Regions from separate parts of the Homo sapiens genome. Here region 2 is linked to region 1. The links come from fine-mapping of genetic effects on gene expression. A gene starts in region 1. The other region holds a variant in brackets. All regions are shown on one strand. Distances are between the middles of the regions. Region 1 holds the start of MYCL (MYCL proto-oncogene, bHLH transcription factor). Region 2 overlaps TRIT1 (tRNA isopentenyltransferase 1).

Evidence for each region.
Region 2: its variant is fine-mapped to the expression of MYCL in whole blood (INTERVAL, PIP 0.97).

The regions. Positions count from the first base shown.
Region 1 is chr1:39,900,756-39,903,603 of GRCh38, forward strand. MYCL (MYCL proto-oncogene, bHLH transcription factor) reads right to left here and starts at 1,162. Exons shown (of 2, transcript NM_001033081.3): 1 at 184-1,162. The coding sequence starts at 679. RefSeq lists silencers at 416-535, 946-1,265, 1,526-1,735.
Region 2 is chr1:39,835,727-39,838,633 of GRCh38, forward strand. It overlaps TRIT1 (tRNA isopentenyltransferase 1), which reads right to left. Exons shown (of 11, transcript NM_017646.6): 11 at 2,384-2,907. LOC105378667 (a long non-coding RNA gene) reads left to right here. Exons shown (of 4, transcript XR_947221.3): 4 at 2,151-2,229. Among named protein-coding and RNA genes, the nearest start is that of LINC02811, 20 kb to the left of the region's middle. RefSeq lists a silencer at 1,177-1,377. The variant T/G (reference allele first, on the strand shown) is at 1,705.

The DNA of each region.
Region 1 (2,848 bases):
CTGTTTACCAACACACCCACGTGCCAGACAGACACGGTTGGGGACTACACGGGCAGCTTCAGCCAAAGAGAGGCGGAGATGGCCCAAGAGCTTGAGAAGAGCCAATGCCTGACCTCAGGCAGGGGCAGAGCTTTGGCCACCCATGGGGTGGCCCCCTCTTGGATGGCTCGGGGAGGTCCTTACCCGAGTCGCTTGGGCTCTCGGACCCGGAGCAGGCCTGGGTCTTGGGTTCGCCCAGCGGACAGGGGGCGGCGGGCGCCGGGTTGCCGGCTTCGAGGCTGGGAGTGCAGTCCGGGGCGGCGGACGCCTTGGGCGGGTTCCCCCGGGGCGCGCCAGGAGCGAGCCGGTCGCTCACAGCTCTCTCCAGCCGTTCCCGGGCCGAGAAGCCGCTCCACATGCAGTCACGGCGTATGATGGAGGCGTAGTTCCTGCCCCAGCCTTTCGAGTGGCCCCGGGATTCCGCTTCGTCTCCGGTGCACCCTCCGGGCCACGGCTCCGGGGGACCAATCCCGGGGGCCGGGTCCCCTGCGCCGGGACCCAAGCCCCAGGGCGGCGACGTGGGGGGCGATGGCACCAGCTCGAATTTCTTCCAGATGTCCTCGCTGGGCGCCGTGGAGCGGTAGAAATCCTCCCCGCAGTCATAGTCGTAGAAATAGTGCTGGTACGAGTCGTAGTCCATGTCCGCTCCCTGCGGGAGGGAAGGGGGGACGTGCTGACCGGGTGCCGGCCGGGCGAAGGAGGTGTCCCCGGGTCCCTCGGCACAGTCGGCTGCCGGGCTCTCGTTCCTCCCCAACCCCACCAGCTTGCAGCCTGCGCCCAGTCCTCGCGTCCCGGGAAGCCGGGCCCCGGGTCAGAGTGGTAGGGGAAGCCAATCGCAGCGCGCGGACCCGACTGTGGGCAGCGAGTTCAAAGCAAACTTTGCCAGCGCCGCCCGGAGCGCAGCTCCCAGGGCCCGGCGGGGCCGGGCGGGGGCGCGCCGTGCCCAGAAGGCAGCCTGCAGCCAGCCCGCACCGCGGGACCCGCGCCCGTGCCCTGGCCACCCGCAGCCTCACCTCGCTCCAGCCGCCCGCCACCTGGAGCGGACCGGCTCCCCGCCGGCTCGGGGCAGCCCGGCAGCCAGCACACACGCACATGCGCGCCGCCGAGAGCGCGGCCCGCACTCACAAGCGCGCCCCCCCCGCGCGCGCGCCCTCCCTCGCTCGCGCACGGCGGCCCGGACGCTCTCGGGATCGGCGCGGGAGCGCGAGCTGCAGGCGCATTGTTTCCTGACTGCCTTATATCTCGTCGCGCGCCCGGGACCCAGGGACTGGGGGGCGGGCCCTATGGGACAAACCCCGCCCTCTCCCTGCCTACTACGGGCAGTCGACAGGTGGGGCCGGCCCCACCTCCTGGCAGCGCTCGCCCGCTCCGTTCAATCCCCGGTAGCCCCCCAAATAAATTGCACGCTGGGGAGCGCAAACAGGAGGAGGGCTGATGCGGCCCGGCGGCCGCTTGGCGGTGCCAGCCGGCTGAGCTAAACCGTGCTCCTTGCCCACTCCGAGCTGGGGAATTAGGGCTACTCCCCGCCCCACCCTGCGCGCCTACTTTCCCCGGCGCACCCCGCTGGGTTCAGGTGCGCCCGAGCCGCCGCGAGGGGTAGGGGGAGGGAAACGCGCCACCTGGCGGCCCTCAGCCCTGAACTTGGGCTGGTCCCGGCGTCCGTCTGGTCACCCGTCGGCCCGTTTCTTGAGCTCAGTGGCCCAAGCCTGGATGGCATCGAAGCGAAGATTCCGGGATTTAGAGCCCGAAACGTAACCTTCCTGAGCTTCAGTTTCATCTGTAAAATGAAGGGATGGTAATGCTTACCTCACAGGGTTGTTGTGAGGCTTCAGGGAAATAAGAGCATCTAGGGAAGGGGTCTGGTCTAGGTGGAGAGGCAGACGGCGCTGGCTTAGCCCCCGCTTTGGGGAGGCGGTGCAGAAATGAGGAATTTTTCCCAGGGCAAAGCCAGCTGAGACCCGCCATGCTCCCTCTCATCTCACACAAAACACTGTAGGAGCTGTACAGTAGAGAATGAGGATTTGGCATCTGGAAAATACTGCAGGACCAAGTTGTTTCAAGTTTTGCCCTGCATTGCTGGCCAAGATGATAGATAACCCCTTTGTATAATCTTCTTTTTAAATTTTAAATATATTTTGTTAAGAGACAGGGTCTCACTCAGCGTCAAGGCTGGAGTGCAGTGGCTCGATCATGACTCGCTGCAGCCTCGAACTCCTGGGCTCAAATGATCCTCCCTCCTTAGCCTCCGAAAGTGCAGGGATTACAGGCACGGGTCACCGTGCTGGGTCCCCCTTTGTGTCATCTTCTACACAGATGACCTTTGGTGGAAGAGAAAAAATTAAACTATACGGCCAGTCTGAGATTTAGGCCAGAGGAGAGTAACTTGGGACAGCAGCCAATACATCTAGATTCCTCCACCTGGCATCAAGGTCTGGTGTCTGTCTACCCCAGCCTGATTGTCTGCTGTCTCTCTCTTTCCCTCCCACCCCTGTGGTCTAAGAACACCAAACTACTCACTGTTGGCAGACGGAAGTGAGAAGGGCAAGCAATTCAGTGTGGTTGGAGCATGGGACACGGATGTGTGTTGTTATATGGGTTGGGAAGGCAGGGAAAATGACAGCCTTCCGTTTTAGATACGTTGGGTCTGTGCTGCATGTGGGACATCTTGAAGGCAGAAACCTGCTCCTACTTGCTTTGTGATTTCTGCACCTAGAACAGCTTCTGGCAGACATTTGTGAACTAACTGACTTACTGAGGGACTCAGCTAACCAGATTTCACTGAGACAGCTTGTGTGCCCTGCTTTGTGCT
Region 2 (2,907 bases), 65 kb before region 1:
AGGGTTGTGGTTAGAGTATGAGTTTGGAGTCAGCCCAAACTGGCTTCAAATCCTAGCTCAACAAATGTTTATGGGATGTGTTAACTAACTTGATGGTGGTATAGATAGATAGATGGATAGACAGATAGATAGATAGATAGATAGATAGATACACACATACATATATACACATATATAAAATCACTTTATATAGTTTAAATATATATAATTTTATCTGTCGATTATATCTCAATAAATCTGGATAAAAATAAAAGGCTGACTTCAAGTAAAAAAACAAAAACACAAATAAGTGCTTTTAAGCAGCAGGCCCTTGTAGATGCCAGGGATAAAGCAGTGAACAACAGACAAACATCGCTGCCCTCACCAAGCTTTATCTCTGCTACTCGGCAAATATTTGCATGTTTACTCTGTGCCAACCACTGTTCATTAAGCTGTGTTTATAAAATGGTGATAACAGATTATCTTGTCCGTTTGTTTTAAGGAATCATTATAACGTATGCATGTGCTTGATATAATGCCTGACACACAGAAGCACTCAACACAGAGAAGCCATGTCTACGTTTAGACAGGGAGGTGTGTCTTGCAGAAATTAGCCTCGATATACATTGGGTGCCCACTATATGTTCCACAATCATCTTAAAATAGTACTCAGATCCTGGCAGAATTTACTTTCCAGTGGGAACAAGAGATAAATAACAGGTGCTATGAGCTGTGGCAAAATAATGAGCCAGAACAGACTCTGGAGCCACCCACCTATTTTCAAATCCCAGCTTGCCCTTGGGAAAGTCACCTAACTGCTCTACTCAGTTTCCTCAGTTGTAAGACAGAGACAACAAGAACAATGACAAAACTACCTCATAGGGCTTTGTGAGGATTAAATGAGTTAATATGTGTAAAAGTGCTTAAAGCAGTGCCTAGCTCATAGGACTACCTAAGCACCAGCTAATGTTAACACTATTACGTATTAACTGCTAGGAGGAGAAATTAAGTCTCCCTAGAGTCAAAGAAGCTTTTTCTAAGGAGAGGACATCAGATCTGGGCCTTGAAGGATGTGCAGGAGTTCACTAGGTAAAGAGCAGGGGAAAGGACATTTCAAGGGAAGAAAACAGTTCAAGCAAATGAGCTGACCCATGGAAGAAATCATATCATTGAAACAAACAAAACTTAACAGCTGAAGCCTAGGTGGGTGGCAGCTGAAGCCCGAGGCACCGTTTCTGGCCATTAGTACTATAGTCCACCAAACTAGTCAGTCTTAAGTCAGAGCTTGCCCTGATAACTTCCAAGAAATGATACCATATCATAAACCAACATTTTAATAGCATTAACAATTTTTCCCCAATGAAGCAAATAAATCCAATTTGTACTTACCATTTACTGGGCACTACAGTGCCAAAACACTATGCTATTTACAACAGGACCTCACTTAATCCTTACCATGTCCCGTGGAATACAGATAACTTCATTTTATACATGAGGAAACAGGCTTTTAAGCAATATTCCCAAGATCACACAGATAGTATATTAGAAAGTAAAGTGTTCAGCTGCAAATACAAATAGTGGTTTCTTTCTCCCCCTGTCCCCTCCCTGCCACATAAAGTCTGAAAGTAGGCAGTTAAGTCATTAGTTCAGTTATTCAACAATGCCACCAAAACACCTTCCATCTTTCCTCCCCACCATCTTTACAGTATGAGCCACTGGCCCTGA[T/G]GTTTATACAGTCTCCCATTCCCTATAATGCTTTCTTATTCTCATCTTAAAGTCCTACCAGCCAGGATTTTCTCAAGCTTTACTTTTTGAAATATTTCAGAGGTCAGCTCAATACAACTCACTAATTTCACAGATGGAGAAATAGATTTGCCCCTAGCAAACTGAGTTAAATTAATTAGTTAAATGAGCCTGGAATTGAGTGCTCCTTCCATGATACCAATCTAGTGGTGACTGTAAGTTGCCCACCAAAACCTGTCCTCCCATTCCTTCTTGGCACATGGCTTGACTACGTTTCTCAGCCTTCCTGGCAGGTAGGTGTGGCCATCGGGCTAAGTCATTGCCAATGGAAAGTGAGAATGTAGGCAGAAGTATCCGTGCCACTGCAGGGTCCAGGCCTTGAGGCAGCGGGTCTACCTCCTCCCTGTTCCTTTTCCCCTTCCCATCAGCTAGGACCAGTGATGACCCAGCTTCAAGCATGCAGCAGATGAGGACAATGCTCCAGAGGATGGAGAAGCAACATGATACGAGGAATCTGTGTCCCTGAATGACCATTTGGTGCACAGCTGCCCCAATGACCTGGATCACTCACTTCAGACAGGTTAATTCCCTTCAGAGCTGTTACGTGAGAAAGAATAAACTTCTTTGTTCTTTAAGCCACTGTATTGTTGAGTCTCTTTGTTATAGCAACTTAGCCTTTTACCTGAACTAATACAAACATGCAGCTTCCTTTGTAAGCATTCAGAGTAGCTTTACAAATAACCAGTTAGCCATCATTTTAGAAAACAGCCTTAACTGCCCAAGTAGGTGATAATCAAATACAGAAATTCCTGCTGGTGGCTATCCCAAAATTTCTTCATCCTGGTTAAAAAGTATTTAACAATTGAAGCAGATCACTTATGTAGAGACCTACTTAGTTTTTATGCTTTCATGCAATTGATTCAACAAATATTTGACTGTGTCTAGGTGCTAGGGATATTGACAAGTCACTGCATTCATAAAAGGTTGATTTCATGCATGTGTGTTTGGGGGAGGGGGTTGTTAGTTTTATTTTCTTTTTGAGCAACATGGTCTTGCTCTGCCACCCAGGCTGGAATGCAGTGGCATGATCATGTTTCACTGAAGCCTCAATCTCCCAGGCCCAAGCCATCCTCCTACCTGAGCCTTCCACGTAGCTGGGACTATAGGCATGACCCACCATACCCG